2 separate regions of the Homo sapiens genome follow, and region 1 is linked to region 2. Evidence: fine-mapped expression QTL. A gene starts in region 2. The other region holds a variant in brackets. All regions are shown on one strand. Distances are from middle to middle.

Region 1 (4,378 bases), 30 kb before region 2:
AGTGGCGGTGGGTGTGTAGCAGTCGACCTGGGGCCCTTGGGGAGGGAGTGGAGTGACAGGATGCCAGCTGGACCTATGCCATGGCAGTATAGCCAACACGAGGGGCTGGTGCAGGAGCCGGCAGGACTGGGGCCTGCAGGGGCCAGGGTGGAGGGCTCCAGGCTTGTGCAGCCTGCAGGGTCAGGGTGGAGTCAGGCCAGGGCCACGTGGGCAGGCATGGGACTGGGGGAGGAGCTTATTCAATGGTGGACCTGGGTTTTCTGGTGGGTGAATGAAGGGGTGCACAGAAGGCCTCCCTCTCAATGTCCCACTCTCCAATCCTTTCTCCTAAGAGATGGATCTGGGCCATGAACTCCTGCTCCAAAAGGCCAGTCCTCTAGCAGAGCCACGTCTGTGAAGAGACCCAAGAGCACCATTGACATTTCTTTATTCCAGGGGTTCTCACACTTTGGCAAGAGTGTGAGATGTGCAGTTGCTGGGCCCTACCCAGAGTCTCTGGGTCAGTAGATCTGCCTTGGGGCCTGAGAATTTGCATTTCTATTAAGTGCCCAAGAGTTGTTAATGCTGCTGGTCAGGGACCACACTGGTCAGGGACTGAACTAGGCATTGGTGCAGTATCACCTGGGACCCTCGCAGAGTGCTCTATGGCAAATATTTCAAAAAAGCCCTTGCCGGCCGGGCGCGGTGGCTCACGCCTGTAATCCCAGCACTTTGGGAGGCCGAGGCGGGCGGATCACGAGGTCAGGAGATCGAGACCATCCCGGCTAAAACGGTGAAACCCCGTCTCTACTAAAAATACAAAAAATTAGCCGGGCGTAGTGGCGGGCGCCTGTAGTCCCAGCTACTTGGGAGGCTGAGGCAGGAGAATGGCGTGAACCCGGGAGGCGGAGCTTGCAGTGAGCAGAGATCCCGCCACTGCACTCCAGCCTGGGGGACAGAGCGAGACTCCGTCTCAAAAAAAAAAAAAGCCCTTGCCACAGAGCAGGTTCCCCCACCCCATGTCATAGTGAATGCCACTCAAGACCAAAGAGGGTAAGTAACCTACCCAAGGTCATTCAGCTGAATGGTGGCATAGTTATCATTTGTAATTAGGTCTCCTGGCTCCAAGTCCTCCACCCCGTCACCATGATAATGACCATTGTCAGCATCATCACCATCATCGTCATCATCATTACCACAGGCACTGTGAGCTCCCTGTGGGCTGTTTTGCAGCTTTGCCCCTGCCCAGGACCAGGGACCAGCCAGAGCTTCATAATTGTCAGCTGAGTGGAATCCCTTCTTGGGGCAAGTCAGTGAGAAAGACTTTCTCAGGCTGCAGTTGACAACCCTTGGCTGAGGCCCCCACTGTGAGCTGGGCAGGTTGGCCAGGGAATAAGGAGGAGGAGACTGCTTACTTAGCATCAGTCAAGGTTGAGGGGCCATGGGCCAAGGTGAGGTTCAGAGGTGACAGAAGGGAGGCAGAACTGCTCCCTGGTCATGTTACCTTCTCGAAACCCGCTGGGAGCTGCGAAGGCAATTGTCACTCTCCAGTCTGGCTTTGAGTGACGCACAGCTCCCAGGCCTCCTGTCCTGTCTGCCCGCTAGGCTGTTGTTGCCTGGGGGTACCAGACCAGAGCTGAGGGTTCTGAGAAGGAAATGCAATTTGCTGTTGGTGTACCAGGCCTTCTTCTGTGCTACCATGTACTGCTCAGTGGACTGAAGCCTTTGCTCATTAGCAGGGCCTCATCCCAGGCCAGTTCATCCTGGGCCTCTGGAGGGGCTGGGGAAATGCCTGGGCCCACCTGGGCCTGCTCTTGCCTCCCTGGGACCTTGCCTGCTGTGCAGAGGAAAAGGAGTGGGAGGAAGGAGGGCCCAGGGGGAGTCAACGGGAGCAGCTGGGGCTGCAGTTGTTTGGAAGTCCCCTGGCTCACCCAGACTTTTAGTCTAGCTAGGGTCCCCGGTCCTGACTGAATGAGCCCCTTCTCAGAAGAACCACAGGTGGCCAGGTGCAGTGGCTCATGCCTGTTAATACCAGCACTTTGGGAGGCCAAGGTGGGAGAATTGCTTGAGACTAGGAGTTCAAGACCAGCCTAGGCAGCATAGTGAGACTCTGTCTTTACAAATAATAATAATAATAATAAT[C/T]AGCCAGATGTGGTGGTGTGTGCCTGCAGTCCCAGCTACTTAGGAGCCTAAGTTGGGAGGATCGCTTGAGCCCAGGAGGTTGAGGCTGCAGTGAGCCGTGATCACACCACTGCACTCCAGCCTAGGCAATAGAGAGGGAGACCCTGTCTCCAAATAAATAAATAAATAAATAAACAAATAAATAAAATAAAGATAGAAAGGAAAAGAAAAAGAAGAACCACAGGCTTTCCTAGAGCAGAGATAGGGCCCAGGGATAAAACTTGGAACTTTGGAGCCAGACAGCTTCGGGCCTCATTTGCTCTCGTGCCTTCAAGTTGTGATTTAACTTCTCTGGGTCTCAGTTTCAGCATCTGCAAAAGGGCTGTTACAAATATTCCCTGAAAGCATCTTCCTGGAGACAGAGCTCTGAGTTTGGGCCTGGCATGCAGCTCCACAGAGTCTGCTCAGCATTTTCTGCCAGCAGAGCCAGCCCTGCTGGTCCCAGGAGCAAGTGGGGTAGAGTCTGAGATCCTCTTCTTCTGCCAAGTGTTGGGGCTCTGGGGCTCTGGGGGTCTGTCCTGGGATCTCCTCTCTTCACCTGTACACAGGATCCAAGATCAGCTCCTCCACTCAATGGCTTCACAGTACCCCCTGCCCCAGCACTGATGATCCCTGAACCCACGTGATCCAGCCTTATCTGGACATCTCCACTTGCATGTCCCAGAGACACCCAGGTCATTTAGTGTCCCAAGGCGGGAACACCATCATCCTCGCCACTACCCCCGCTCCCGTCCTGTGCTGTCATCTCAGGGAATGGCCTGGCATCCAGCCTCGTCCTGCCTCTGCCCTCTCCCATGTTAAGCTTATTGAGTGTAGCTCACCTGGAAATGTGGAGATGGGAAATACGGTGGGGACTGTTCAGGTGTGGCCGTGGCTGAGACAGCACAGCTGCTGGAGCAGCCTGCCTGGACTGGAGTTGGCATCAATATAGGCCCCAGAGGATGCCACCTCCCCACCGCCCCCAGCAGTTCTCCCAACTCCATGCTTCTGGAACCCAAGGCACCTTGGGGGTGCACTCTCACCATTGTCCCCTTTTCTGCCTTTCTATCTGGGCCCCTTGTAGGTTGACAAGCAAGCGCCCCTTGTTTGGGAGAGAAACCTCCATCCACTGCAGAGAGAAACTGCAGGGACTGCCTCTCATCCACCCCGTCCCTGGGCTCCTGGTAAACATGCTGGCAGGCAGGGATTTCCCATGATGGAATTTCGCAATTGCCGTCCCATCCTTTTGGATGTATTCATTCCGGAAACATCCTCCCGGGGGCCCTCTGTCTAGGCCCTGGAAATGATTCAGACCCAGGCTCTGCCCTGGCCTCTTTCGTTGCTTAAAATATTCCAGTGGCTTCTCTTCCTTCCTCAGTTCCCATTTCAGCTCCCGGAGGAGGGTGACCCTTCACCCAGGCCTGTCACTGGCTTTGCTGGTGGGCTCACCCCTAGGTTTTCAGTTTTGGCCTCTGGCCCCAGTATCTCGTCAGGGCCCCTGTCCTCCCCTCCCCTCTGTGTGGCCTCCACAGCCAGCGGCTGCTGATGGCCCCAGCTCCCAGCGAGTGTCCTTGTTTTATCTCGCCTGTGAATGTGCCTCTTCAGAGCGTGTCACTGGGGCAGCCCAGTCAGGCCCTATGTTGGAGGCAAAATGGGCAGGGCCTTTGAACCGTGGACTTGGGGCATCTCTGGGTTGCTCTGAGCCTGCGCCCACCTCTGTCTCCATCTACAGACTCGGGAGCCACAGTCCAGGGTTTGCAAACTGAGGCCCCTTGAGCACACTTGAGAATGCCCCACCCCAACCCTGCAGTCCACTGCCCCCTCCCCCAGCACACACAGCCCACAGCCCCACTCCAACCCTGCAGTCCACTGCCCCCTCCCCCAGCACACACAGCCCGCAGCAGCCAAAAGAAGTCATTCTTCCTTTTAAAAGTAAAAATCTCCCCCAAGAGAGGCTTGTTAAGTGACCCGAAGGCATCCTTAGAAAAGGCTTTCAGGCATTTGAGGCTTCCATGTTTAAAGCAAATTCACAGAAAGTTGAGGTTGGTGAGGGGAGGCTGGGCCCCTTGTTTCCAAGAGCAGAGGGCTGTCCCGAGCACCTGGGGAGGGGCTTATGGGAACAGTGCACAGGAGGTTGGAGGAGAGATGGTGGGGACAACCCGGCAGCCATGGACCTTTATGAAGAGCAGACTCTAGCACTCCAGCTGGAGCTCGGCGTCTCTGCCACTGGCCTCCTACC
Region 2 (4,378 bases):
GTGGCTGGGAGTCCCATGAGGGCACGTGGCGCCCAAGGCCCTTCCACAGCAGGAGGCAGATGTGCAGGGGCTACGGGTTTCTGCTGCTTCTGACAGGCTGTCAAGGCCAATGTCCTGATGCCCTGGTCTGATGGGGAGGAACGAGTGCCTTGAGGACACTGAGGAGGGCCCCCCTGGCCAGCATGGGTATGCAGGGGAGCCTTCCTGGAGTTGGGCAGTCCATGATGAGAAGGAGAAGTTCTTAGGTTGCTGGTGGTGGTGAAATGAGAGGACGGGTGATCCAGGCATCAAGCACATTTTCATGTCTTTGAAATACCAGCATAAGAGAAGCAGGGGTGGGTGAGAGGGATTGAAGAATCAGAGCGGCTGTAGCTGGAGCTGGAGTAGGGTGGGGACAGACCAGATCACAAAGCATGGACTGAAGGGGTGAGACAGGAGGGCGGGGGAGCTGTGGGCAGGCTGTCGCAGGCACGTAGGCAGGAAGGGCCCTCGGGGGCCATCAGTGACTTAATGATTTTTACCATGTGCTAGATCCCAAGCTAAGCATGTTACATGCATAGTCTATCTAATCTTCAGTTTTATGAAGTGGGTTCTCCTGTTATACCCATTTCGCAGATGAGAATATTGAGGCTCAGATAGGTTAAATAACTTGACTGTGGTTTCATGCACAGCCAGGAACTGTCCATTTGGGATTTTTAATGCAGGCAGACAGAAGACAAGTTTTGTGTTTTGAACTTGTCACTCTGCCATCACCTTCTGGTCTCCAGGCTCTCGCAGCAGCTCTCTGCCCATTCCGTCATCCATAACGCTCTCGCAGCAGCTCTCTGCCCACTCCGTCATCCAGAACGGGATTGTACGATGAAGCCTCCCCTAGGTGATCTTTGGGAAATGCCACCCATCTCTGGAAGTGAGGGATGCTGGTGGTTACAGCTGGGTGGGAATCCCAGCTCCGCGACTCACCTGCTGGGTGTGATATTGTAACCCTGCCGATCCTCAGCTTCCTTATCTGCAAAATGTTAGTTATGGGGAGGAAAGGAGATAGAGGTAAAGCACCAGGCAGGTAGCACAGTGCCAGGCACCCGGAAACGACCCAGTGACGGTGCTCCTCGGATTCCTATTACTGCCCTCGTTTGCCAAGGCAGGGTGGTGACACCGCGGACCCAGGGGGTGCCTGGCCAGGCCCAAACAGGTGCCAGCGGCGCGTGTGTGTGGAGGAGCTGGGGACAGGGAGTATGAATCATTCACAACTGAAGCCTTGCATTATTAATATCGTTATTCTCAGACTTCTAAGGAGGGCCCAGCTGGATCCCATATATGGAAGGCGCGACTCAGCCTCCGGGGCAAGCACCTCCCTGGGTCCGGAGTTGCCATGGAGTCCCGCAGGCGGCCTGGAGGCGGTGCCCCGGGCTCGGCCCCCGCGCAGGTCCTTGGTCTGCGGCCTGGGTCCTGCCCGCGCCGGGGTCCACCCAGCCCGCCTTTGCGCCGGCCCAGGGCCGCTCCCCTGGGACCCTGGGGGACAGACAGAAGCTGGTGGGGACTGGCGCGGGCGTCCTCGGGAGAGCGCCGGGCGCGCTGGGCTTGCTGAAGGGCTCCAGGCCTGGCCATTCGGTGACTTCCAAAGAGGGGACGCGCCGCGGGGCCCCGAGGGCCTGAAATCCGCTCCCGCAGCGCAGCCCCGGGCGCGCCACTACCCCCGCCGCGGTCGACTGCGGGGCGACCGCTCGGTCCCGAAGCCGGGAGAGGAGAGGCCGGGCCTCGGCGGGCCGCTCTGGGCGGGCGGGGAGCGCAGCTCCGGAGCCAGGCAGTTCCCCGCGCCCGCCTTCCCCGACCTTTCCCGGCCGGCCCGAGCTCGGAGGGGCGGGGCGCCGGGCGGGCCGGGGCGGGGCCCGGGGAGGAGCCGTGGCTGCGGCGGCTGCCGCGTCAGAGCAGCGCTCCCGCTGCCCGGCGGCTCAGACACGGCCCGAGCGCCGCCGCGGACGCGGACAGAGACCCGCACGGGCACGGGCGCTGCGCTGGAGGCTCCCCTCGCGGTCCGGGGCTGCGCGACCATGGCGGACAAGGAGGCCGGCGGCAGCGACGGGCCCCGAGGTGAGCGCAGGCTGCGGGTCCTGCGGCCGCGGCTGGCGGGGCAGGGAGGGAGGAGGCGCGCTTGGCCCAACGCTCCGCACCCCCTCGCGCGCCGTGGAAAAGTGGGGACGCCCGCGCTGCATCCAGTTCTGGCGGGCGGGGCCGGGGTCAGCAGCAGCGGGGCCGGGGGCCGGGGTCCGGTGGACCGGAGACGGCCCGCGGGTCACATGTTCTGCGCCCCGCCAGGGTGCGGACTCCGCGGCGGGGACTGCAGCCCCCGCTGAGGCGCCTGGTTGGTCCCTGCCTCGGGTGGCGCCTCCTGCGGGGCTGGTCGCGCGTGCGGGTGAGGACCGCCCCGCGTGTGCAGCCCCCGCGCGATGGGCTGCGGAGGCCGGCGCTGGCTGGGTAAAGGGCCCGCCGCCGGGTGGCCGGGTGGCCCCAGCGGGTAATTTTCGTGACTCAGCGAGGCAGGAGTGGGAGCCTGGGGGAAATCGGAGATTTGGACCTGTTCCCTCGCCCCATCCCACCCCGGCCGGACGCTCGAGCCAGGAGTGGGGGCTGCAGCTGCGGCCGAAGGGCTTCTCACCCACCTCCCCGCCCATCCCCAGGGACTCACTGGGCTGGGGAAGGGTGAAGCGGCGGGGGTTCGATGGTCCCTTCCTTGCGGGGGGCAGGGGGAGGCACCCAGTGCGGAGGACAGACGCTCGCATTTTGCAGATGTGCTAGGGCCGCTTTCTTTGGGGAGCGTGATTAGGGCTCCGAAGGGTGGGGGAGCCGGAGAGGACGGGGAAGGGGGTTGCGGGAAGAGGACGAGCAGGTTTCGGAGCCCAGGGCTGTAAATCAAGGCTTCTCCCACGGAGGGCCCGGCTGGCCAGGATTCCAGTCTTCCTGTGGGTCCCAAGTGGGGAAAGTTGGGCGCATGGAGGCGCCGCGCGTCCCTGACCTGCAGGGCCTCGGCGAGAGCGGCCGCCGGGGAGAGGAGCGCGGCCCAGGCATCTTTCCCGGGAGCGACAGGCAAGCCGCCTGCGAGGATGATATTAAAATGCCGGGACGCAAGGGAGATTCAGCCACGAAACGAGCGCTTGGCTCTGCGGGGCCCCAAAAGCTGGAGAAACTGAGTCCAGTGGCAGCACAGCCACCATCTGCGCTGGGTTCCCTGTCTTGCTGTCGGGCCTGCGGCCCCCACCCTCTGCTGCACTCCAAGCCGCACCTGCCCCCACCCCAGCCCATTGTTCCTGCGGATCAGGGAGGTGCCTCCCCACGCGGCACTGCAGTGGTGGGGGAGTGCAGGGTGGCGGGTGGGGGATCCTGACAGGGCTCACTCCAGGGAGAGGCAGCGGAGAGCCCAGGCCGTCCCCAAACACACACCCAGTCCCCGCCTGTACTCTTCCTCAGCTGGTGAACGCAGGCAATGGACTGGCAGCTGTCTTTGTCTGAACATCACTCAGCAACTGGATTGACTCTTTTTTTTTTTTTTTTTTTTTTTTTTACTTTTTTCCTTTAAGTCAGAAAATAAAAAAATTTTTAGGACGATAAGTAGGGGCGTTGAATTGCTAAAGCCTGAGAATTACTGAGCCAGTTTCTTGCCTCTCATGCTGGGATAGGGTGGGCGATGATACCAAATACAAGGTTGGGCATAGGATTTGTCAAATCAGAAGTGGGCAGGAATGTGTACCCACTCCCCACACCTTTCCCAACACTGTTTTGTCTTGTAAATCAAATTCAGCACCCCTATCCTAACACACACACACACGCACACACACACACACACACAGACACACACACACACACACACACACACACACACACACACGGTGCTGGGAGAAATCCTGTCCAGGATGGGGACACCCATACCTGGTGTGCCGAGCCACCTGCCACCGCTCTTCTGCGTTTGTTCTGGAGTATTTGTTTCTTCACTTCCAGTCATCTCCAGCTCAAGGTGGCCAGTGAGAATTCCAGGTGCATGGACTTAGGACAGAGACCAACCTGAAGAGCGGGCTGTCCCTGGCAGCTCACTGTGCCTCTGGGCACCTCTCCCTTTATCTGTAAAATGGAGGATGTGAATAGTATTGCATAGGAGCAGAGTTGGCTTGCCCCTGGCCCCTACACTTATTTCTAAGGTTTCCTCATTGCTGGGAAAAGAGCGTGCATTATTTTATTGTTTTAAAGGCTCACAACAAACCTGTTACCAGCATTCTCCCCTTCCTGGGTGGGAAATCCAAACACAGGTTGAGTGACCTATCCAAGGTCACACATCTGGGAAGTGTTGTTTGGGACCCAGGCCATCTGATTCCAGGGCACCAACCTGTGC

The links. PIP is the estimated chance that this variant, and not a neighbour inherited with it, causes the effect. A credible set is the group of variants that fine-mapping cannot tell apart.
Region 1: its variant is the best candidate, but not a certain one, in a credible set for the expression of HSPA12A in gastroesophageal junction (GTEx, PIP 0.79).

Annotation. Positions count from the first base shown.
Region 1 is chr10:116,770,604-116,774,981 of GRCh38, reverse strand. LOC105378498 (a long non-coding RNA gene) reads left to right here and starts at 982. Exons shown (of 3, transcript XR_946339.2): 1 at 982-1,430; 2 at 2,463-2,616. It also overlaps a transcript of HSPA12A not described here. RefSeq lists an enhancer at 1-106. The variant C/T (reference allele first, on the strand shown) is at 2,122.
Region 2 is chr10:116,740,140-116,744,517 of GRCh38, reverse strand. It overlaps HSPA12A (heat shock protein family A (Hsp70) member 12A), which reads left to right and starts at 1,952. Exons shown (of 12, transcript NM_025015.3): 1 at 1,952-2,088. The coding sequence starts at 2,049. RefSeq lists enhancers at 679-1,382, 1,383-2,087 and a silencer at 1,638-2,087.